Linked DNA regions of Homo sapiens. The protein of the gene in region 1 purifies or fractionates together with the protein of each later gene. This does not show direct contact. Each region holds a gene or a part of one and is shown on either strand. Other genes may lie near its edges.

Region 1 (3,500 bases):
TATAAGATTTTGTAGATTTCAAGATCAGTAAGCTGAACTCTGCTTTGAGTTCACATCCAATACACTTTTAAATATTGATGTATTATTCTAAAATTTGGTCTTTCTTTAAAAAATATGATCCTTCAGTCACAAAGCAATAAAAGAAATTTAGAACAAACTACTTTTCTTGTCTTCACAGTTTTATGAAACTAATGGTGAACACAAAGTTTATGTTAATGTCCGTAAAGAATTATCAAACCAGTTGATTTCTTTCATGGTTTTCTTTTATACTTAAATGATCCACAGAACAGCTTACCCATTCGAACTACAGGACAACTCTTTTTGCATTCCTGTCGACATTTCTTAGGTTTACATTTGTCATGGTTGACAATAGCAATTCTCGTTAACTTGTCTGCCATAACTGGGCGAAAGAATATCCAGCTCTTCTATGAAAGAAAAATCAACAAATTTAATGCCATTAGTTAAGGGAACTAATTTGCATACATGAAAGACAGGAAAACATAAATGATCATTATATGGAGATGAAATGATTATCTGCAAAAAAAAAATATAAATTTTGACAAATGTAAAAATTGTAAAATAATCTATAATCTAGTAAGGTTGGGAAAATCAAATTTTACATATATACTTTAATCAGAAGATTTATATAAGGAAAGAAAAAAATGTCATTTACAATAGCGACAAAAAGAAAATATCTAGGAATATACTCAACAAGATATATACACAAGAAAACTTTAAAACAACACCAAATGATATAAATGACCTGAACAAATGACATGCTATCTCAGTTTTTATAATAAAGAATAGTTAATATCACAGATTTAAACCCTTCCTGAATTTATATATTTAATTCAATCTCATGAGAAAAAACAAACAAAAGAACCCCAGACATGTGGTGGTGTGCGCCTGCGGTCCCAGCTATTCCGGAGGCTGAGGTGGGAGGATTACCTGAGCCTAGGAGGTGGAGGTTACAGTGAGCTGAGATCACACTACTGCACTCCAGCCTGGATGAGAGTCAGACCCAGTCTCAAAAAAAAAAAAAAACCCCAACCAACCCAGACAAAGCAAATCTAAAGCTCTAATGGAAAAAGAATTATTAATAGCCAGGAAAACTGAAAAAGGGGAAGCAGGATGGGGGAAATCCCACAAGCTCTTCCCCCAAACTAAGCATTACTTCACGTCGTGTACATCTGACTATAATGACACTGACAGAAATGGCAAATAATCATAATAGCAATGAAATTAAAAGGAGACCAAATAACTATATGTATATACTATGCTCACTTTTAAAGCTTTTATAAGTCTTGATATTCCAATTTAATCAACTACACAGCATTAAGATCAAAGTTAACTTAAAAATCTTTCACAATATTGGGCTTAGTGGTTCAGAAATTAATTTCCTTAGAATGGTGATTAAAGTAAAAAATTCCAAAAGGTGCCTTAATACTCAAGTTTATTCCAATATGTAATGAATGAATCTGAAACCAAGATTATCCATTTAGAAAGAGATCATGTTGTCTTTTTCTTACTGTGATAATCAATCTTGATTTTATTTTATTTTTTTTAATAGACTGCTTCCCTTTGTAGACATCTCAAGTCTTTTTCACACCCATCAATATCATTAGGCTTGGATGGGGATAAGAGATCTTGCTCCTCGACGCTGTCCTAGACTATTATCTCTCCCTCCTCCCTAAAAAGTTTTGCATCTCAACTATCTAACTGCTTTAGTTAGTAGTGACCACCAGATCACTCCCTTTCATTCTTTGAAGATTTCAGCCCCTGTTAACTTTCACACACTCTTTTACAACTCCTGACATAGTTCTCGATTTCAATATGCTCACAGATGACCCTCCTGTCCTCTCATTTAACCCCTCTCCTCAAACAGCTTGTCTTCTACCTTACCACAGCCATTCATTTTTTCTGGTTACATCCTAGACCTTATCATTACCAGTAATTGCAATCCTTCTATAACCTCAACTTCAAATACTCCATTCTCCAACCACCATTCTTATCTTTTTAGTTCACCCCCTACTACACAACAATCCAACAACTCTGATTCCTCCATTCTTCAAACCTTTCATTATCTCTTGATTCTATCATATTTCCACTGTCCCTCAGCTCTTGGTGTTTTTATTTTCCTTCTCACCCAGCTAAAATACCCTAAATCACAATCTTGGTTAAATTCGACTCTTCACCTGCACACATAGAGCTGAAAATGGTAGGTGAAAAAAAAACACAAAACCTGCTGACTAGTCTCCCTTTAAATTCATCATCTCAAATGGACCCTTATGCCAACCAGCAATGACACTGTATGTATTTCCCTGGCTAAGACCATTTGTACACTAGAAGACATTCCATAAGAATGTCCCAACAATTCTCCCTTCTGTCTTTAACTTCATCAATTATTCTCTCCACTGGCTCATTCTTATCAGCATTCAGGCATTCTATTATCTGACCCCATCGTCTCCCATTGTTTTATTTTTCCTTCTTCAAGACTACTTCAAAGAGTTGCTTATACTCAATGTCTCAAATTTCTTGCTACATGCTCTCTGGAATCCATTCTAGGCTCTAGAGCCCATCATTTAATCAAAACTTTTCGAGCCATCATTGTTCTTCACATGGCTAAAACAAATGGTTATCAGACCTTAATTCACCTGACCAATCAATTGCATCTGACACAAATAAACACTTTTCCTACTAGATAAAAACCCTTTCTTAACTTGGTTTTAGGATACAACACTAATCTGGTTTTTCTACTGTTTTCCTGGTCACTCATCTTCATCTCCCAGGCTTCTAAATGCAGAGTGCTCTAAGACTTGGTCATTTTTTTCCACATATACTCATTCCCCAAGTTGTTCTATTCTGGTCTCACAGGTTTAAATTCCATTTATATACTGCAAATTTCCAAATTTCTATCTTTAGTCAGCATACCTCTCTTGAACCCTTCCTGCCCACCTAACATCTCTGGAAGGCTTAAGAGGAATCTCCCAACTAAGCTCCTGATATCCTCACCAAAATTTCAGCAGTCTTGCCCATTTTGTTAGATGGCAACTCCAGTCTTCCATTTGCTCAGGCCCAAATCCTTGAAGTCATTTTCTTTTCCACCTAATAACAGCAAATCCCACTGAAGCTATAAAACATCCAGAATCTGATCTCATGAGTTTGGTGTAAGCTATCACTATCATCTCTTACCAGCATCACTCAAATAGCTTCCTAACAGATCTCTTTGCTTTTACCCTCACCTCTTTCTACTCTAACCCTCAACAGTTCATTCTCAACACAGGAACCATAGGAAGCCTTTTAAAGAGTAAGCTAGATCATGTCACTCCTCTATTTAAAATCCTGCAATGGCTTCATTCTCAATCTGAGTAAATGCCAAAGTCCTGAAAATAATCAATGAGGCATTGATCAGCCTCTGTTAACTTTCTGATCTCATCTCCAACTACTCTAGCTCTTGTATGGCTCCAGCTACATTGGCTCTTTGTTGTTCCTAGCACATG
Region 2 (4,232 bases), on another chromosome or scaffold:
TATACAAAAATTAATTCAAGATGGATTAAAGACTTAAATGTTAGACCTAAAACCATAAAAACCCTAGAAGAAAACCTAGGCATTACCATTCAGGACATAGGCATGGGCAAGGACTTCATGTCTAAAACACCAAAAGCAATGGCAACAAAAGCCAAAATTGACAAATGGGATCTAATTAAACTCAAGAGCTTCTGCACAGCAAAAGAAACTACCATCAGAGTGAACAGGCAACCTACAGAATGGGAGAGAATTTTTGCAATCTACTCATCTGACAAAGGTTTAGACTTTCATCAGAAATGCTTAGTTAGCTTAGTTGTTCCTCTAGAACAGCAATCAACTAACTATGGCCCACAGGCCGTATCTGGCCCACCATCTGCTTTCATAAGTAACTTTTAATAGAACATGGCCACGCTCGTTTGTTTACATATTGCCTATGTAACTGCTTTTGCACTATAATGGCAGAGCTGAACAGTTCCAAAAGAGGTCCACAAAGCCTAAAATATTTACTATCTGGCTCTTTATTAAAAACAAATTAAAAATTCAAAAAAAGCCTGACCCCTGCTCTAGGACAAGTCTCCAGAAGTGGCTTTGGCTCAACATAAAAGAGAAAAAAATGAACTACTATCTTGCAAAATAGAGCTGTGATGAACTCCTATAGAAGATTCAAGTCTGAGTCTGCCTAGGCAGCTGTTAGGAATGTAGGCAGAACAAAAATAGTGTAGTCCTTTGATGACGTCCCTAAGATGAGGCAAGGACTGGAAGGAAGCCACACGGGCACAAGATGCAAATGTCATCTAAAGCAGCTCTGCCAGGAGAGGGCTGTGAGTTCTTGCAGACATCTGATCATTTTCCCTTTTCCTAGCTTACCCTCCACTTTACTGTGATACAGCAAAACAGTTCTAGTTACCTCTTATGAAGAGACTGCATGAACATAAATGACTACAGCAATGGTTTAGATTTAGGACTTTTATTTTTTTCACACCCAAGTTAGCCTGAGTTGACTCTCATTGTTCCCCTATCTACCCACAGTCCCCATCCAACACGAAGAAATATTTGCTTTCACATTACAGCATAAAGACCACCTAAGCTTTGACAGCTGACTTGTAGTGGGTCAGCGTGCGGGCAGAAGGGTCAGTGGCATTGATCCACTTGGGCATCCAGTAATGGCTCAGCCAGTCAGCCCGGCCTGGGTAATGGCGTTCAAAGACTTGACGGTAGTAATATCCTTCTTTGGTTTTAGGAGTATTGAAGGGAAATTTCTGGGCTGCATTTGCCATCATTGCATCATCAACCTGTAAGAATAAGCATATAAGAGCAAAATGGCTTAAAATGGCAGGAAATACTTGTGTTTAGTCTCATTTCACGAAACAGAAAATGTTAAGACGTGACTGTAACTTGTATGAGACCCTTTGAATCACCCATCACTTAGAAAATGCTAAAGTATTCATAATATGGATAGCTGCAGTGCCTTTTAAAGAACACTCATATGCATATTTTTAATACTTGGTGGCTCTGTTTTAGTCATTTGTGCCTAACAAGATCTGGCACCCAGCAGGTGCCCAAAAATCTGATAAATGAAAATCAGTGATGATTAGTAGTAAGTCTCCTCTCTCTCTCGATTCTAGATGCTACTTTATAATCCTTCATGCTACTTAATTCTTACGTAATTCTTACAAAAGAGATAATTGTTTACAGAGACTCTGAATCTCTCTGATAGGGACATCCTATCAGAGAGATATCTGATGTATGTATCATTCAAACTAAATACATGTATCATTCAAACTAAATACATGTATCATTCAAACTAAATACAAAATGAACAGCAATGACAGCTCTGCATCCAAACTGTCTTATTCCTGAAAATGTTTTTAAAGACATTATACCTGATGTTCAACGTATTCCTGTAAAATCTTAAACCAGGAATTCTTAACTGAAGTTATTCCATCACTGAAGGCTTCTTTTGGTCGCCAGAGAATCTCTTTGGGTATCAGATTGGAATCCTCAAACGTCTCTCTCAGGAGATGTTTTTCTATCCCATTCTGACGTGACAAAAAAAGGAGCATCAGGTAAAAATTACAAATATAATCTGATGGCAATGGACAGTTTTACCTTGAGTTGATTTACCTACCTTTGGAATTCTCATTTCTGGTGGCAGAGACAAGTAATAGGAAGAAAATCGATGATCTAGAAATGGGACTCTCAGTTCAAGACTTAAAGGAGAAAAGAAGAAAATCTAAATTAAAATGGGTATTTAGTGCCTGCCAGGTTAGGTTCTGATTCAGTTTCCCATCAATTCAACCAGATCTTAAGAAATGTTAAGGTCATACAGTCACATACAAGCCTCCTAATGACTGCCCTACACTAATGAATAGATACAAAAAATAAATCTTCATTTAAAATAATACATATATCATGTCATCTAGGGAGTAAAACTAACTGAGACTATTACTTTTACTTTCCCTTCTAGGAATAGTTAAATGCATATTTCAAAAAGCAGAAAAAGTTACAAAACATGAGTGACCCAATCATTAAGAAAATACCTTGCCTAGACCTAACTCAGTGTTTACTAGGTGAGACCATCTCTTCTAACAATTGTGATGACGATACAGTATTTTTTTGCCACTGATTAAAAATTCACATACAATATGCGATATAAACCAGTGTCCCACTATATTTCATCAAATTCCAAATCACCGGTTTCCTGAAGCCTAGTGACTCTAGTTAGGACAAGCAGAGAGGATAATGACCAGATTCAGTTCATTCCTCAAACCCATATTTAATTATATCCTTATCTAGGTGTGATTCAGCAGAGGCAACTAAGACATTTAATGTCAGTTGTTTATCCTGTACAGTAAAAGTCTTCAGTTCTTCAACATAACTTTAGACAACTAGAAATGATAACCAAAGAAACCTGGTTCTTTATAATGTAATCAAACCCCTTGTATCTTCACTACTCTATTCCCTCAGGGTCACTACAGCACCACATGGGCATGGTGGGCACTCACTACTTGTCACATGATGTTTACGATCTTTACTTCTCTTTAAAACACTTAACGGTAGCTGCTGTAGCAGCCTTGCCTCTTCCATCTTGGTTGTTCAGATGTGAGCAGAATGTTGTTACCCTTTAAAGGTGAAAACTCCACCTCAAACAACCTATGGAAGAAGACTTCTCTCCATATACCACAACACCACTTTGAAATGTGGCCTAATCCTTTTGGGACAAAGTTAAGAAACAGCTTCATTTTCTCTATAAAAGTCACACTTTGTAACATATAGCCAACTATATGTAACATATAGCCAATCAGCTATTGATTTTTATTTTCTCAGGGTATTGAGCTTTTTGTTTTGTTTTGTTTTTGGTGTTTTTTTGTTTTTGTTTTACAATAGCCTCTAAAAATATTACCCATGGGCAGCAGTAGTTCGATCTGCGCGGAGAACATCAAACAAATAGAGTTCCCTCAGAAGCCTCTCACTCTCCTCCTCGGCTTTTTCAGGAGAAGGAGCCTATTTCACAAACAAAAACACCAAGAGTTTTGCTTTTGGCACACAAAGCAGTTTTTCTTTCTCCCTCTCCAATCCTAAAGGTGGATAAGACAAAAAGTTAAACAAATTTAGGGAAGGGAGTAAATAACTGAACAGAGGTAAGCAATGCTTCACAAAACATGCCTTCCTTCCTACCAAACTGCTAATATTAGAATAAAATGAACACAATGGGCAACAGTCATAATTCCACAGGATGCTAAGAAATGGCAGAAAGGGGATTCTCAAGCTTAAGTAGTTTTATTTATTTATTTTTAACTTTTTTTTTTTTTTTTTTAAGAGACGGGGTCTTACTCTGTCAACCAGGCAGGAGTGCAGTGGTGCAATCACAGCTCACTGCAGCCTCAATCTCCTGGGTTCAGGTGATCCTCCCACCTCAGCCTCCTCAGCAGCTGGGGGTATGAGCATGAGCCCTCATACCCAGCTGTAACTAGTTTTAAAGAATAAAAATTATCTGACACATTAAAATTTCTTTCTTCCCCAAGAGATAGAAAGCAAACACTATCAGATTCCCTTTTGTAACCTCACAAGATACTCAAAAATATCACTGTCATACTGAAAGATGATAGAAAATAGTCAAACAATTCATACTTTTCTTAATATAGCATGAATATCCCTCCACTTCAGAGTGGTTACCTTGTGAAAATATATGTAACCCTGCGTAAGTTCATCTGATCCTTCTCCAGAGAAGA
Region 3 (3,500 bases), on another chromosome or scaffold:
GCCAGGTGGAACAGAGCCATACTGTTCTTCCTTCAAAAGCAAATGGGAGAAATATCGCTGAATTCTTTTTCTCAGCAAGGAACATCCCTGGGAAAGAGAATACGCGCCTGGGGGTATAGGTCTATAGATGGCCCCCCTGGGTGTGGCCATCTTTTATGGTCTGTAGACTGTAGGGGTGAAATACACCCCAGTCTCCCATAGCGCTCCCAGGCTTATTAGGAAGAGGAAATTCCTGCCTAATAAATTTTGGTCAGACCGGTTGCTCTCAAAACCTTGTCTCCTGATAAGATGTTATCAATGACAATGGTGCCCGAAACTTCATTAGCAATTTTAATTTCGCCCTGGTCCTGTAGTCCTATGATCTCGCCCTGCCTCCATTTGCCTTGTGATATTCTATTACCTTGTGAAGTACTTGATGTCTCTGACCCACACCTATTCGCACACTCCCTCCTCTTTTGAAAATCCCTAATAAAAACTTGCTGGTTTTTGCGGCTTGTGGGGCATCATGGAACCTACCGACATGTGATGTCTCCCCCGGATGCCCAGCTTTAAAATTTCTCTCTTTTGTACCCTGTCCCTTTATTTCTCAAGCTGGCTGACGCTTAAGGAAAATAGAAAAGAATGTACGCGACTATCGGGGCAGGTTCCCCGATACCCATCTGTACAAAAAAATGTAAAGAATTAGCTAGGCATGGTGGCATGCATCTGTAGTCCCAGATATTTGGGAGGATGAGGTGAGAGGATTGCTTGAGCCTAGGAGGTGGAGGTTGCAGTGAGCCAAGATCGTGCCACTGTACTTCAGCCTGGGCAACAAAGCCAGACCTGGTCTCAAAAAATAAAAAAAAATTTTAAAAAGGCCTGGCATGGTGGCTCACGGCCTGTAATCCCAGCACTTTGGAAGGCCAAGGTGGGCAAATCACTTGAGGTCAGGAGTTCAAGACCAGCCTGGCCAACATGGTGAAACCCCATCTCTATTAAATATACACAAATTAGCCAGGTGTGGTGGCAGGCACCTGTAATCCCAGCTATGTGGGAGGCTGAAGCAAAAGAATTGCTTGAACCTGGTGGGTGGAGGTTGCAGTGAGCAAAGATTGCATCACTGCACTCTAGCCTCGGCGATACAGCAAGACTCTGTCTCAAAAAAAAAAAAAAAAAAAGATATTTGGGACACCAGTAACATATTAAATAATTTACTCCCCCAAAAGCTTTCTATTTTCTTGCCAAATGAATCAAAAACTTAGTTCAAATCGATGAAGTTACTTCTTAAAAGCCAGAGAGAAAAAAAATCAACTCCAACAAGACACTAAACATTGGTGTTTGTACTTATCACATAGCATCTTTACTCAAGGGTGGCCTTTTACCACATACCAGCCATGTTCTAATTGTAACTGTTTCCGTTAATTCCAGGGTTTCCCAATTGGTTGATGTGTTTGCAAGTTTAAGGGTCTCTAGGGTTTCTTTACTCAAACAACTCTACACAACTAAGCACAGGAAGTTGATAAGCAAAGGTACTTGCTTTGAACAGAGTAACCAAATAAGGCCAATGGTCAATCTCTATAAAGCAAAGCAAATATGACTTGTGTTTCAGTTTTACCTCCTGTATTTTGGGATCCTTATGTAGTTCTTCCAAAGCGATAGGCAAGCACCACCTCTTCTATACATGAGAAAATGAGGCCCAGAATATTTAAGTGCCTTGTTTGTGGGATATAGGGTTGATTAGTGGCAGAACTAATGCATTCAAATGACAATGACTTTAAAGCACAGATTAACATGTATCTTTTTTAAAAGGGCCAGATAGTAAACATTTTGGGCTTTGAGGGTCAAAGGCTATTGTTATGTAGGTACTTATATAACCATTTAAAACGTAACTAAAAAACGTAAAACACATTCTTAGCCTTCTCACAGCAAATAAACAGGCAGCTGGCCAGCAGGAGTTGGTGGCTCCTGTTCTATAGGAACAGCCTTACCTACATACTAACATGACTACTAAATGCCATTGTTGAGGACTGTCAGCAGCTGTCTTAAAATTTTAAAAAAACTTTATTCTTTTAAGAATTATGGTACAATACATGTAACATAAATTTTACCACCTTAACCATTTTTAAGTGTACATTTCAGAGGCATTAAGTACATTCACACGGCTGTGCTATTACCAACATCTACTTTTCCTTTATTTTTTCTTCTGAGACAGGGTCTTGCTCTGTCGCCCAGGCTGGAGTGCAGTGGTTTGGTAAAGGCTCACTGCAGCCTCGACCTTCTGAGCTCAAGTGATCCTCCCACAACAACCTCCTAAGTAGGTAGGACTACAATCATGCACCACCATACCGGGCTAAATTTTTTGTAGAGATGAGGTCTCCCTATATTACCTAGAGTGGTCTTGAACTCCTGGGCTCAAACAATCCTCCTGCCTCAGCCTCCCAAAGTGTTGAGACTACAGGCGTGAGCCACGGTGCTCTGTGTACCAACATCTATCTTCAGAGGACTCTTTTCATCTTGCAAAACTGAAACTCTCTGCCCATTTAGCAATAACTACACCCCATCCCAGCCGTCTTCCATTCTACTTTTTTTCTGTATGAATCTGACTATTCTAAGTACCTCACATGAATCTGACTATTCTAAGTACCTCACATTAGTAGAATCACACCATTTTTTTTTATAGATGGCCTATTTAGCATAATGTACTCAGAGTTCATCCATGTCTTACCATCTGTCAGAATTTCCTTTTTAAAGGCAGAATAATATTCTATTCTATGTATATACCACATTTTTCTTTTTTGGAGACAGGGTCACCTAGGCTGGAGTGCAGTGGCATGATCACGGCTCACTGCAGCCTTGACCTCCCCAAGCTCAAGTGATCTTCCCACCTCAGCCTCGGGAGTAGCATGTACCACCATGCTTAGCTCATTTTTTGTATTTTTAGTAGCTATGTTGTCCAGGCTAGTCTCCAATTCCTGGGCTCAAGCAATCTGCCCATTTGCCTGCCTTGGCCTCTTAGAATCTATCTTTTTTTTTTTTTTTTTGTTTGACACAGGGTCTCACTCTGTCGTCCAGGCTAAAGTGCAGTGGCACAATGAAGGCACACTGCAGCTTTGACCTCCTGGGCTCAGGTGATTCTCCCATCTCAGCCTTCCCAGTAATTGGGACTACAGGTGCCCACCACCAAGCCCGGCTAATTTTTTGTATAGACAGGGTTTCACCATATTGCCCTTACACTCCTGGACTCAATCTGCCCACATTGGCTTCCCAAAGTGCTGGGATTATAGACATGAGCTACCACACCCAGCCTGTATGGCTGTTGTGAATAATATGCTGTTATGAACATGGGCACACTAAACACCATTCAACTTAAAAAAATAATCAAAGCCTTAAGAACTGAACCAAAATGGCTTAGGTGAAAATAAAATACCAAACTCTGCTCTAAGAAAAGGAAAGAACATTCACTGAATTATACCTTCAGCAATAAGCACTTAATGGAACTTGTTTCATTTAAAATGCACCAC
Region 4 (3,500 bases), on another chromosome or scaffold:
GCAGTGAGCCGAGATCACACCACTGCACTCCAGCCTGGGCGACAGAGCAAGACTCCGTCTCAAAAAAAAAAAAAAAAAAAAAAAAAAAAAAAAAAAGAACAGGTGATAAACTCCACTGTAGATAAGTGAATTTTGAGGGTATGTGAGATACAGATGCTAGTCAGAAAGTCAGAAGAATATGAACTAAACACACATTTGCAAGTAGACATAGACAGATGCAGTATTAGACTCAGTTAAATGAACTGCTCCAGAAGCTGTTATGAAAAGACAATCAAGGACAGAATCCTAGAGAAGCACATATATATGGGGCACATCAAAAAAAAAACAATCAGCAAAGAAGAATGAAACAACAGAAACACAGAATAGTAAGGCCAAGATAAAACAGAACCACAAGTGCCAAAATAATTATTTCTATGAAAGAGTGGGCTTCTGTATCAAAAGCAGCAAGGAGGTCAAATAACATATGAATAATAAGACCACTGGGTTTGAAAAGAAAGGAGCTGCTGATGTGCTCTCACAAAGAGCAGTTTCGCTGGAGTACCATATGCAGAAAACAAATGGCAGAGGGTTAAGGAATGAATGGGATATGAGGAAGTAACAAGAATGAGCATATCAAAGACAGGAAATACAATAAAGCCTGTAAGTTGTGTTCAAACACTGTCATTTAAAGGAAACTTTTACTCCCTTACATCCAATTTGGTCTCTACATTTCTGTTGCTTAAGGTCTGAAGACAGCACTTATTAAAGACACTTGACATAATGCATTAAGAAAGCAGGTTAAATAATTTCCTGAGGGTCTATAAAAGTAGCTGCTAGAATGAGGTTCTTCATCTTTAAATGAAATGCAAAATAAGCATCCTAATGGGTAATCTCCATAAACTCTAAGTAAATAATTTCAAACAAATAATTAACTCAAACAAATCTGAAAGTATGTAACAAATAAAAATGTATACTTACAACTAAATCATCTGTTACTTTAACACACAAGTTCCCATCAGAATGCCTATATTTGAGAACCACACGTGCCTGAAACAAAAATACATATTTAGAAACAGTGAAGACAAATGACATTTCTTATAAATAATTTAGTCTTCAGGTAGGCTGAAAAGGATCCTTTTAGAATAAATACCCCCAAACATCTAAAGGCATTTTTACTATAAACTAAACCGAAATGAAGTTAAAAAAAAAATCAGCTATTTTAGTTCATTCCTTTGCTACCATTTATTTAAGACTTAAAAAGTTGGATATTTTATTTGCAGCCAGTTTGAAGAGATGTACTGAACATTCTCAAAACACATCCACATTCAGGGAATGTCTGTGAGACTTATAAGGTGGCATTTCTTGCCAATAAGAATATACACCAACACACCTAGCCACAGAGGAATGACAGGAAAGGGAGGAAAACATTTAGCAGAAATGGCTAGTTAAAAAGTCCAAATCCATTCATTAGCAAACAGTGCTGCAGGTCAGTGCAACTCACACTTTCCATTTTTCCACAAATCTTAGCAAGCAGATTCAGACTAAAATATTCAGCAAAATCAGGTCTTTATCACGAAGGTAGAACATAACGCATTATTACATAAAAGCAGAATTCTGCCTTGAAGTCTCCACCAACAACTTTTCCAAAAACCAGAATAACTCCTATACTGAAGTTCCATGTTACACAATACTTTATGTTCAATATTCTACAGATTGCCAAGGCATTTAGATATTAGCATATTCCTATAAGACATCTCCCAAGAACACTTCCACGAACATTATTTTTTTTCAGTGATGGATTCAAGCACAGTGTATCGCAGTTTTTCCCTAACCAGTATCAGTAACTCTTGTTTAGCTAGCTGTTTTAAAAACTGCTAAGTATCGGCCAGGCGCGGTGGCTCACGCCTGTAATCTCAGCACTTTGGGAGGCCAAGGCGGGTGGATCATAAAGTCAGGAGATTGAGACCATCCTGGCTAACACGGTGAAACCCCGTCTCTACTAAAAAATACAAAAAATTAGCCGGGCGTGGTGATGAGTGCCTGCAGTCCCAGCTAATCGGGAGGCTGAGGCAAGAGAATGGTGTGAACCAGGGAGGTGGAGCTTGCAGTGAGCCGAGATCGCACCATTGCACTCCAGCCTGGGGACAGAGCGAGACTCCATTTCAAAAAAAATAAATAAATAAAATAAAATAAAATAAAAACTGCTACTTATCTACAAGCCAGAACAGAAACATAATTTTAAAATGGTTACAATCTAGCACCAGAGGCCTCAAGACAATTCTGGAAACTAAATAAAAAGGGCTAATGGAACTGCAACCTACAGCTTTCCCCATTACGGTCTTTGCATTCCTGAGACTGAAAAAAAAAAGTTACATCACTATATGCGATTTGTCTGAGTGAAGGAGGAAAGGGAACTCATCAAGCATTTAAGCAGGTATAAATAGTAGTAACTAGGTTAATTATCTTTAGAATACCTGATTCTATTTATTTATCTAGTAAATTCAGTTTTACACATTTTAAAAATTCAGTTCTCTAGAAACGAAACACTTAAAAATATACTAAGCATGACAACTATGTGAAGTTTTAACTCTCAGTTAAAGGAACACTCACTGGTTTCATTTAGGAGAAATGAGAGTTAAAAGGCCAATCATGGCTGGGTGCAGTGGCTCATGCCTATAATCCCAGCACTTTGGGAGGGCAGGAGTTCACTCACGAGGTCAGGAGTTCGAGACCAGTCTGGCCAACATGGTGAAACCCCGTCTCTACTAAAAATACAAAAATTAGCTGGGCATGGTGGTGGGTGTCTGTAATCCCAGCTACTCGGGAGGCTGAGGCAGGAGAATCGCTTGAACTCGGGAGGCGGAGGTTGCAGTGAGCTGAGATTGCACCACTGCACTCCAGCCTGGACAACAAAAGCAAAACTCTGTCTCAAAAAAAAAAAAAAAAAAAAAGAAAAAGAAAAGAAAAAAGGCCAATCGTGTTTATAAAAGGGTCCATTTGGTAATTTAGAGGGTGCCAAGTCACCATGTCAGATGCCATAAAGAAAGAAAAATCAAGGTTCTTTACCAAAAATAACCAAAACACAAGGACAGAATGAATTAAGTCCTATAAAGGGATATACAGATAAAATGCTAAAGAGAGAAAACAAGTAACTTAGACTGGGAAAAAGGAAAGTCTAAAAAAGGAGGTGGCTTTGAAATGCTTTTTTTGTTTTAACCTTATAGAAGAAGGCAGAAGAAAGGCTAAAAATCATTCTGAACAAGGATACAATCCGGTAGCTTCATGAGACTAGAGCTGAAGATCATGAAAATGGTGAGACAAAGCCAGAAAGACTGGAGATGGGTCAGACTGTGACTGGGAGTTGGGACTATATCCAGTTATCAAAGAGCCAGTTTTTAAGCAGGAGATGAAGAATTCAACTTTTGTTTTTTAGACAGTTGTGGCAAGAGTGTTAAGGAACTAAAAAGGCTGACAGACCAACAAAGAGGTTATTACATAATCCAGTGGTAATGCCATCTTCA
Region 5 (3,500 bases), on another chromosome or scaffold:
TATTGGAACAATGCTTCTATTGGCTTCTGTGGAAACACGAACAGCTTTGAGCTCTTCGGTAGTAGGTATAGGAACATAGTCCTGAACCACAGCATCTTCTGGAAGAAGGCTCCAGTTGAGTTCTCCTGACACAGGTGTAAAGTCATGAATGTTACTCCATGTATTGTTGAAGATACTTAGCCCTGCATCTTTGAACTGGAAAGCTAATTCAGGATAGTACCATTGAAAACATCCAAATTTGATATTTGAGGAAGACTCAATGATGGGTTGAGTGGCACAACACAAAAAGACTTCCAGCTTTCTACAATCTCGCACACGAAATTGTTGGCAGGCTAATGTGCACTTGCAATCTCTGCAATTCCGGAAAAACACGCTGCCTTTCACGGGTCCCAGAAAAATTATGCAGTTAGTACAGTCATCAATGGTAACTGTAGCAGAGTGATCAAAAATATAGATGTTACAGTTCTCACAGTCTTGAATGAGAAACTGTTGTCCTGCTACCGTCCCAGGTAAGCGACCTACTGTTTCATCCTTCAGTCCACTGAACATGTAGTCTTTTGGATCAACCTGCAGGAACAAAACACAGACCTTGAGTATTATTAACATTATTCAACAAGTATCAACTAAAGGACTATTGGCTGCCAGGCACAGTTCTTAGTGCTGAAATATAAATTCTTAATCTCAATGACTTTGAAACACAGTAACAAAATGAACAGGACAAATTGTTTCTCTCAATAATAATATAAAACCTATGATCTTAGTCAACATACACACCTCCCAGAAGACAGATCCCCTCTCTTTGCTATTAAATTGTGTTCTGGGCATGCAAAGCTAAAGGGTAGCCTCTGTGACACTATGGTTTGAGTTTTCCCATGACTTAACCCAAGTGACACCTACATCATCATTGCTACTGTCAATATTGTCAGTAGGCTTTTAGCCTATTTGGAATTTATAAAAGTAAAAAATGTACTAAGCTTTGTAGAGTACCAGGGTCAAAAATATATTTTTAAATGATTGTTTTAATAAAAGCGCTATGAAAAATTCAACTCATATCCTATGTATCTAATGATCTTAACCATGACCTTGCTATTTCAGCTTTCTGATACTTTTTCTTTTTTGATGCTTCATTTTTAAAACTTCTAATTTCTAAAAAAATCTGAGGCTGGGTGCAGTGGCTCTTGCTTTTAATCCCAGCACTTTGGGAGGCCGAGGTGGGAGGATCAGATGAGACCAGGAGTTCGAGACCAGCCTGGCCAACATGGCGAAACCCCGTCTCTATTAAAAATACAAAAATTACCCAGGCGTGGTGGCGCATGTCTGTAATCCCAGCTACTCGGGAGGCTGAGGCACAAGAATAGCTTGAGCCTCGGAGGTGGAGGTTGCAGTGAGCCGAGATCGCACCACTGCACTCCAGCCTGGGGGACACAGTGAGACTCTGTCCCAAAAATAATAATAATAATAAAATAAAATTCTGAAATTGGGAATGTACCCAGACTGAAATATATTTCTCTATCCTTTTTCAAATCAATGTATGGTCTCAGTTTCTAAACCCCAACTGATTTCTGCAATATGCTACAGAAAACAGAAGAACCTGAAGGCACAAGAATCACAATATGTAAATGCAAGCAAATTTGATTCAAGCATTTATTAAGCTACAACGCAATTTTTCAAATTTGGCCATTTCTATTCTTAGATCTTCCAAACTATAGCTCGCTCCTTCCTTCACTCCTTCTTTCGCTCCTTTCTTCCTTCGCTACTTCCTTCCTTCCTTCCTCCCTCCCTCCCTTCCTCTCTTCCTTCCCTTCCTTCCCTCCCTCCTTTCTCTCTCTCTCTTTCGAGACGGAGTCTCGCTCTGTCGCCCAGGCTGGAATGCAATGGCGCAATCTCAGCTCACTGCAAGCTCCACCTCCTGGGTTCAGGCCATTCTCCGCCTCAGCCTCCCAAGTAGCTGGGACCACAGGTGCCTGCCACCACACCCGGCTAATTTTGTTTTTGTATTTTTTTTTCTGAGATGGAGTCTCGCCCTGTTGCCCAGGCTGGAGTGCAGTGGCATGAACTCGGCTCTCTCCTGTCTCAGCCTCCCGAGTTGCTGGGACTACAGGCACCCGCCACCATGCCTGGCTAATTTTTTGTATTTTTTAGTAGAGATGGGGTTTCACTGTGTTACCCAGGATGGTCTTGATCTCCTGACCTCGTGATCTGCCCGCCTCAGCCTCCCAAAATGCTGGGATTACAGGCGTGAGCCACCACGCCTGGCCCCTGTTTTTGTATTTTTAGTACAGATGGGGTTTCACCATGTTAGCCAGGATGGTCTCGATCTCCTGGCTTTGTGATCCACCTGCCTCGGCCTCCCAAAGTGCTGGGATTACAGGCGTGAGCCACCGTGCCCGGCCTTTTTCTTTTTTTGAGATGGAGTTTCACTCTTGTCACCCAGGCTGGAGTGCAATGGCGCAATCTTGGCTCACTGCAACCTCCACCTCCCGGGTTCAAGTGATTCTCCTGCCTCAGCCTCCTGAGTAGCTGGGATTACAGGCGTGTGCAACCATGCCCAGCTAATGTTGTATTTTTAGTAGAGATGGGGTTTCACCATGTTAGCCGGGCTGGTCTTAAACTCCTGACCTTGGATGATCTGCCTGCCTTGGCCTCCCAAAGTGCTGGGATTACAGGTGTGAGCCACCGAGCCCGGCCCACATAATCTTTTAAACAGTATGCCTGGAAAATGTCACATTAATTTTTTTTATTTTACCTGACCTATCAAAATATGGTCACTAAAAGCCTATTTTTGTTTCTTCCATGTGACTTTCTTATCTACTTCAACTGTTTTAACTGTTTGTGACTATATAAACTTCATGCAAAACCATTCATGCACCATAGGCTCCCATATATACAATATGTAAAAATTTGATTTACAAAGCAAAATTTAATCATCTTAATGATTAGCAAATGAGCTTAAATTGACTTAGTAATTGCACAATAGATATTGTACTTAGCCAGTTTTACATGCTGTACTAGGAGGAACACTGGTCTGCAGTATGAGGCAATAAAAGAAGTACTCATTTTCCAGTCCCAATTTTGTCCCCTATAAGCAACCGGATCTTGAAAAAATCCCCTTAACTTTCTGGATGTTCAGTCACTCTACCAATATTTGAATACCCAGTATGAGCCAGACATTGTTTTAGGCACTAAAATGAATAGGACCAGCTCTTTCCATAAAAGTAAACATTCATCTAAACTAAAAACAACTTGACCATGTAATGAGAGATGCTGAGAATATTTTGGAGGGGACAGAGAAGGGACATCTGGGGCGGGGAAGAGAAGTGGGGCGGAAGTTCTGCAAAACATGAGAATGGATAAGCTAGAGCTCATTAGGTAAAAGGGGTAGGAATAAAGGACCCTCCCTTCCCATGCCAGGCAAAAGTAACAGACGGAACAAAGTAAAATTCTTCAGGGAGTAGGAGGAAAACTGAAAGTAGTTTGGTGTTACACATGCTATCAGAATG
Region 6 (3,500 bases), on another chromosome or scaffold:
ACAAGTTGTTTACTGTCCTAAGTATCATTTTATCTATTTTCCTTGAAAAAGCAAAGGTCTTGTTTTAATTCATCACTCAAGATACGGGACCAATGGTCAAAAAGACATTCCAAGCCTTCAAACGTTTTACCTGCTTGGGGTTCCGGTTTCTGACGTATCCGGTTTGGGAGAGATTCTCACCTCGTGGGTCATGTTCTCATTATCTCTGAATACACAACACACCTGAACTTTTCTACAGCTTCACTAATCCTGTAGGTGTTTAGCCTGCTGCATTATGTACCAGTCATCTTTCTGCTTTTTTTCTAAATATGGGCCTCTCAAATGCTCTTGCTCTTGACAATTGCTTTATCCTGTGTGCTTCTTTAAAAACATATCAAATGTTTCAATTGCAAATTGGTCTCATGCCACATAAAATTTGGTATTAATTCTAAATACTGAAGTTTCACTCCTTCGTCCCCTCTGTGACTACCACAGCAGAAAGCCTTGAAAATACTGTCATTGCAAGTGGAAGCATGATCCTACATGTGCCCCAGGAGACCCCTCTTCCTTTGTGTTTACAATTGCATAAGAAATTCTGAATCCACACTTTGCAGCCACATTTAGTGTCCTGACACAGAGAAAGGAGAGCCTGGTGGAGCTCTGTAGGATGGCTCAGGACTCCCTTTGCTCCATCCATTTGCACAGCTAGCTGCTATCAGAATTCACGGCAAGGGCGGTCACTGCCTTGGGGGATTTCTGATAGTGTCCCAACACCCTACTTGTAAAATGAAAAATAACTTTGTATTATCCTCTACCCTTTTCTCCAAGGTTGCATGTCTCCTATTTTGATCTGAACTGGCTGATCTGCAATGCCCTTAAGACTTAATATCAGATTTCTGCTTTAATAACAATAACGACATTAGATATACTGTTACAGAATATGTGTCTAATAACAAACAAATTAAAGCCCTCGAAATTCAGACCTTGCCTCATTTACTACCATGTCAAACATGATGGCTGTATAGTAAATACGGCAAAAAGCCCCTCAGGGAGATTGTTTACACATGGCTCTGTCTGCATTGGCAAAAAAAGCAAAAAAAAACAAAAAAAACCCAACTTCCTGTATCCTAATATTTAGTATATTCTTACATTTTAAATAACTGAGAAAGAAAAGAGTGAAGAACGTAATTATTGATTCTCAAGTTTAATTTTAGGGGAGCAATGAAAGGATATGCACAAATACCAATGGCCCTTTGTAAGAGTTTCAAATTACTACACTTTATAATCTTTGTTCCTGACACGTGTGTCACATGTCATCTGTTACACACTGTGGTCATTTCTCCCAGCTGAAACCCTGTTTGTGGATATAAAACTCTTCTACATGGTTTAGAGCAGATGGTGAAGCATATGCCTCTACTTCCTGGGTTGCCTTTCTTCTGATTTCCATATGATAGAGTCTGCCTTGAGGGCCTCCACAGCATTTAAAGAAATCAAAACGGTTAATGAAAGACACAGTTAGATAAACACTCCAAGATGATCTCAGGCTTAAAATATAGCCAAAGTAAATTCAAAGGAACACAGACAGTCCTTTTCTTCATTATGAGGCCACTCAACTCGCCTCCCGATCTCCAATGGAATAACAGATATACCTTCTTAACAAAAAAATGCCTGAGCACCAAGGTGTTCCTGCTCACCCGCCCTCCCTCCCCAGATGGTTTTAATTGCTCAAGGGCAGCACAGGGCCCCCAGAACTCACTTCAAAGGCCTCAAACCAGTTCTGCTTCCTGATGTGTTCTATGCATTCATGGCACTGCTTCTGGAAGTACTTTTTTTGCTTCTCATCCAACAAGCCAATTTGGTACAGGAATTCTGCATAGCCCCCTATAATCTGAGGACAAAAAAGACACACATCAATGTGACAAAGGGAGAGAAAGAGACCTTAAGGAAGCCCATTTGCTTGGTGAAATAATCCTTTGTAATTGTTAATATTGTGCTGGTTAGCCAAGTAGGATAATTACATGCACACACACATATACACCCCACAACACACACAACAGAACACAACACAATACAAACACACACACATTTGCACTGACAGCCAATGTAAGCTGACACAGTAAATTGATACGTTGAAACATTTGGTAAAAATTAGGAGATTTAAGTCATAAAGTCAACTGGTGTTTCCCTTATCAAAAGTTAGACCTCTAAGAGGAGCCTTCCATCTGATAAAAAGGCATTTAATCCCCCTAAGAGACAAAATAGAAAGTCAGAAGGAGAAACCTACTGATTCGGGATCAGAATATCCATCTCCAATAGCAATTCCGTTCAGGTTGATCTTCACCTCTCTCACAGGGTTGAGGGAATGGATGAGGTGTGCAATGGCTGGCACATATTTCCCTGCATAAGACTGAGAAGGACAGATGTTGAAATGGCCAATCACAAATGGATGCTAGTAAAATTAAATGTACTTAAGCTAATTAAAATAACAATGAAGGAGCAATCTTTCCACATGAGGTATACCATCTGTTTCTTAACCCCACATTATAGATTCCATAATAGCAAAAACCTCTGTCTTCCAATTCTTTTGTCGTCTCAAATAGCACCACATGACATGAACAGGTTCGATGCACAAAAAATCACAAGTGAACATGTAATAAGTGAACATTCTAATTTCCTTCCAAAATAAAATAACTTGGGAGAACACAATTCTGCCATGTGTTAGGCATCTCTTACCAGAAAGCTCTATTCAAAGATTAGAGGGAAAAAAATCTCAAGTTTAAAATTAAGATTTCAAAATCTGATAATGCTGCAAATTTTGAAATCAACATGTACTAAAGGAATAGGAGAAGCAGAAAAGGAAAATAATATTTATTGGCCACTAAAATTTTCACTTGAACTCATCTCTATTTCCAAACTTTTCCAGCACAAGGTCCTTTTTCAAGGTCAGAATATTTTGTAGATATATTTCCCCTAACAAACATGGTAACGGTTCTACTTTAAGACTGTGCTGGAAGAGCTACTATTGACTCAGCAGTATTTTTCAAATAATTTTGCATTTTGCATTCTTTCCATCAAAAGTTGCCTTCTTGATATCTCCACTTGTATGTCTAATATTAAACTGCACATGTTCAAAATAAAGCTCCCAATCCCCAACCCTGAGGCAGCCTCCCTTTCATCTCATGTTAATTCTGTTTCTCCCCTGCTCAGGCCAACAATCTTGGTGCCATTCGTTATATCTCTCTTTGTCTCGTATTCCACAGAAGTCAATCAGCCAAGCTTGTCAGCTCTACCTATTCTAACAAAATCTGTCCAGAGTCCAATGTCTTCTCACAACCCCTTCTCCATCACATCATCTCTGGCCTGGATGACTGCAGTAGACTCCTCATTGGCCTCCTTCTTTTGCCCTTATCCTTTAATGACTTCCCATCTTCCCAAAAGCAAAGGCATAAGGGCTGACATGATCTGCTCCCTTCTCTACCCTCAACCCCTGCCACCCTCTCGCTCATTCCTTTCCAGCCCAT
Region 7 (3,500 bases), on another chromosome or scaffold:
TTATGATCCAATAGATAACTAATACAATAAGCTGTGTTTATATGCATAATATTTACATCAGGAAAAGTTCGGAGAAAATAAACAACTTATCTCTTGGCACTAGAATTTCATAAATTTAAATTTAGTATTTTTCTTGCTTATCTTTATTTTCTAGTTCTCCTACAAATGAGCATCTATTATTTATATAACGTTAAGAACTAAATGTAAAATGGGTCCTTATTCTCTCTCACCATGCCACTAAACCCTTCCTTATCTGCCATGATTACCCTCAACAGAGTATTTGCATCATCTACAAAGAAATGAGATTTGCTAACTCAACCTGACCCCTACATGAATTATCACAATTTCAAAATAAGTTATCCTATGGGATTTTACCCCACTGAAAAAAACAGCAGTTGAATACATATCAGAAGCTTACCGAGTAAACCACTAACATCAAGACAGCATGAACATGAAAGTGAGTACTAATTAGCAGCTAATTATCTGCATGATATTTACCTCTGCTATTTGGAGAATACGGTCCATTATGGACATTCGTGCTTGCCCAGGCTGGGTGAGGAGGTTCCCGTCAAGGCGAGAAAAATCAAAAGGGATCAGGCAGGTCACGGAGAGCCAGAGCAAAAGCATGTAGCGGGTTTCCCAAGCCTAAAAAATTAAACCACGGGAAGAATGAGTCTTGCTTGAAAATCACAGGCCACTGGCCACAATCTACTCAAAGTCACTGCCCTCCATGCCCACCCAATGCCTATGAAAGCCATTCAAATGCCATCACCCTCAGGGCCAGAAATGCAAGCCGTTCACCAACTCCTCGCCACATCCCCCCCGGAATCCCCACCACACACACCTACCGCCGTAACTTAGCTCAGCAGACAAGAGAGACATCAAAATGAACAAAGAAAAATCATAATACATCAGTATAGCAGCTTCTCTTCGCTGGCACCTCTCCACATACAAACTGGCCTTTTGAAAAAGTGAAAAACAGATAAAAAGTAAAAACACCTAAGAATAAAGAAAAAAGGCCAGGTGTGGTGGTTCACACCTGTAATCCCAACACTTTGGGAGGCCGAGACGAGCGGATCACCTGAGGTCAGGAGTTCCTTTTTTTTTTTTTGAGATGGAGTCTCGCTCTGTTGCCCAGGCTGGAGTGCAGTGGCGCAACCTCGCTCACTGCAAGCTCCACCTTCCGGGTTCACGCCATTCTCCTGCCTCAGCCTTCTGAGTAGCTGGGACTACAGGCGTTTGCCACCATGCTAGGCTAATTTTTGTATTTTTTGTAGACACAGGGTTGCACCGTGTTAGCCAGGATGGTCTCGATCTCCTGACCTCGTGATCCGCCCACCTTGGCCTCCCAAACTGCTGGGATTACAGGCACGAGCCACCGTGCCTGGCCGAGGTCAAGAGTCCTAAACCAGCCTGACCAACATGGAGAAACCCTGTTTCTACTAAAAATACAAAATTACCCTGGCGTGATGACACATGCCTGTAATCCCAGCTACTCAGGAGGCTGACACAGGAGAATCGCTTGAACCTGGGAGACAGAGGTTGCAGTGAGCCAAGATTGTGCCATTGCTCTCCAACCTGGGCAAGAAGAGTGAAACTCTGTCTTTTTAAAAAAAAAAGAATAAAGAAAACAATTATCAACTTCTAATAAAAAAGGAGTACCCTTATTTTCAGTAATTAGTAAAAAACATCCCAATTTGTCCCTGCAATCATTCCACTGGGGGGCGCTAGAAGTACTAGGGAAAGAAGGGCACGGAGTGCAGGGCAGCAGGGAAATGCCCCACAGCGCTCATCAGTCACATCCACGCCGAGACAAGCCACCGCACTGCACGGTTATAAACCGTGTGCTCCTCCAAATACATACCACGCAGAAGACAGCGAGCATAGCAGGCCCCGCTGCCGTCTGAGGCAAGGCCCCTGACGAGGCCGGCCCTGGGCTGGTATCCAGGGACCTGGACACCAGCAGGGTTCCCACCAAGCCCTGCCTGATGAGGTCCCTCGCTGGCTCAATCTGCACAAACCGTGTGCTTTACGCTGGCACCTGCTTTCCTGCTGGGGGTCTGGAATTTCGTTTCGTGCCAGGCAGAGGTGTCCATGTGGCCAGACCCCAGTGAAAGCTCTGGGCACCAAGTCTCAAACGTGCTTCTCTGATAGACACCTCACAGGTGTGGTCACATCTCACTGCTGGGGGAATGACACAGGCCCTGTGGGACCCAACTGGAGGACCCCGGGAGCTCCCGCCTGGTTCTCCCCAGACCCCACCCATGTGCCTTTTCCCTTTGCTGATTTTGCTGTGTATTATTTTGCCATAACAAGTGACAGCCAAAAGGAGGACTCTATGCTGAGTGCTGTGAGTCCCGCTCAGGAAGTATCAAACCTGGGGGTGGTCTTGGGAACCCAACACAGTTATACTTACACAGTTAAAAAAACATAGAAACAATGACGGATTTATTGTTAAACTACACCTAGGCATAATTTTTTTTATAAAGGGGCTATTTTAAACGAAAATAATTTAAAGCAACTTGTACAAGAAGTAAAGGAAAAGTGAAAAGAAAAGAAAGAAAAGAGGAGTGACACAAAACAAAGGGAGATAAAATGAAAGAAACAGGAAGGGGAAGGTGCAGCAGGGTGGGGCAAGCAGGGAGGAAGGACAGGCACGGAGGGCTGGAGACGAGGGGGGAGGCAGAGACACTCACTTCATGGTCCTTGGGATTCTGAATTGTGACCAAATCTAAAACAGGCTCTACATCGGCAACTTCATGAGGAAATAAACGAAGAAATGTTTTATAGCCTCGAACCTATCAAATAAAGAGATGCTGAATTATAACATTTAAAAATACAGAGAGCAGCAAAATTGCCTTTCTACCCTTTCATCAAAAATCACCAGCTACGCGACCCACTGATCAAAGAGAATTCTGTGACATTACAGTGACACAATTTAGTAAGACCGTAGTCACCCCAAGAAAGCTACCCATGGCCAAGAGCGATGGCTCACACCCGTAATCCCAGCACTTTGGGAGGCCGAGGCAAAAGAATAGCTTGAGACCAAGAGTTGGAGACTAGCCTGGGCAACATAAAAAATTAAAAATTAGACAGGATGGTGGCACATGCCTGTAGTCTGAGAGGATGAGGCAGGAGGGAGAATCATTTGAGACCAAGAGTTCGAGGCTGCAGTGAGCTGACTGCATCACTGCACTCTAGCCTGAGTGACAGAGCAAGACCCCATCTCTCAAAAAAAAAGATTTCCTTCCTAAATTGGTAGTGTTATTCATTACCATATTTACGGAATCAGTCATTAAATATGTTCATTTATATGACTGTCCTCTGACATTTATGAGGAATAAGTGCCTACAAACCGCAAGGGCCCAAATTCATTAACACTTCCCTGAAGCTCAGTGATACCACGCCTTCCGGAGAAATCCTAACCTCAAACAGAGGAGCTACAGAGGCCTGCGTGTCCTTGGCAGCTCACCCGCAGTGTCCTCTCGCTGGCCAAGGAC

Evidence for each region.
Region 2: the proteins of ABCE1 (region 1) and ASNS purify together in Homo sapiens (affinity purification with mass spectrometry, with the first as the bait; one study listed by BioGRID). This does not show direct contact.
Region 3: the proteins of ABCE1 (region 1) and TIMM23 purify together in Homo sapiens (affinity purification with mass spectrometry, with the first as the bait; one study listed by BioGRID). This does not show direct contact.
Region 4: the proteins of ABCE1 (region 1) and SRP9 purify together in Homo sapiens (affinity purification with mass spectrometry; 2 studies listed by BioGRID and IntAct, with this or other methods). This does not show direct contact.
Region 5: the proteins of ABCE1 (region 1) and RP2 purify together in Homo sapiens (affinity purification with mass spectrometry, with the first as the bait; one study listed by BioGRID). This does not show direct contact.
Region 6: the proteins of ABCE1 (region 1) and CPVL purify together in Homo sapiens (affinity purification with mass spectrometry, with the first as the bait; one study listed by BioGRID). This does not show direct contact.
Region 7: the proteins of ABCE1 (region 1) and TBCD purify together in Homo sapiens (affinity purification with mass spectrometry, with the first as the bait; one study listed by BioGRID). This does not show direct contact.

The regions. Positions count from the first base shown.
Region 1 is NC_000004.12:145,101,311-145,104,810, reverse strand, and holds part of ABCE1 (ATP-binding cassette sub-family E member 1), read right to left. Parts: intron 426-3,500; 5' UTR 399-425; coding exon 296-398; intron 1-295. UniProt on the Homo sapiens protein: Nucleoside-triphosphatase (NTPase) involved in ribosome recycling by mediating ribosome disassembly. Able to hydrolyze ATP, GTP, UTP and CTP. Splits ribosomes into free 60S subunits and tRNA- and mRNA-bound 40S subunits.
Region 2 is NC_000007.14:97,851,177-97,855,408, forward strand, and holds the end of ASNS (asparagine synthetase [glutamine-hydrolyzing]), read right to left. Parts: coding exon 4,177-4,232; intron 3,579-4,176; exon of another isoform or gene 3,505-3,578; coding exon 3,404-3,504; intron 2,211-3,403; coding exon 2,129-2,210; intron 2,040-2,128; coding exon 1,884-2,039; intron 1,293-1,883; coding exon 1,083-1,292; 3' UTR 501-1,082; downstream 1-500.
Region 3 is NC_000010.11:45,996,489-45,999,988, reverse strand, and holds part of TIMM23 (mitochondrial import inner membrane translocase subunit Tim23), read right to left. Parts: intron 1-3,500. UniProt on the Homo sapiens protein: Essential component of the TIM23 complex, a complex that mediates the translocation of transit peptide-containing proteins across the mitochondrial inner membrane.
Region 4 is NC_000001.11:225,780,826-225,784,325, reverse strand, and holds part of SRP9 (signal recognition particle 9 kDa protein), read right to left. Parts: intron 1,027-3,500; coding exon 958-1,026; intron 1-957. UniProt on the Homo sapiens protein: Component of the signal recognition particle (SRP) complex, a ribonucleoprotein complex that mediates the cotranslational targeting of secretory and membrane proteins to the endoplasmic reticulum (ER).
Region 5 is NC_000023.11:46,850,543-46,854,042, reverse strand, and holds part of RP2 (protein XRP2), read right to left. Parts: intron 568-3,500; coding exon 1-567. UniProt on the Homo sapiens protein: Acts as a GTPase-activating protein (GAP) involved in trafficking between the Golgi and the ciliary membrane.
Region 6 is NC_000007.14:29,070,038-29,073,537, forward strand, and holds part of CPVL (probable serine carboxypeptidase CPVL isoform b precursor), read right to left. Parts: intron 2,429-3,500; coding exon of another isoform or gene 2,387-2,428; coding exon 2,264-2,386; intron 1,868-2,263; coding exon 1,736-1,867; intron 1-1,735. UniProt on the Homo sapiens protein: May be involved in the digestion of phagocytosed particles in the lysosome, participation in an inflammatory protease cascade, and trimming of peptides for antigen presentation.
Region 7 is NC_000017.11:82,765,565-82,769,064, reverse strand, and holds part of TBCD (tubulin-specific chaperone D), read right to left. Parts: intron 2,799-3,500; coding exon 2,697-2,798; intron 646-2,696; coding exon 499-645; intron 1-498.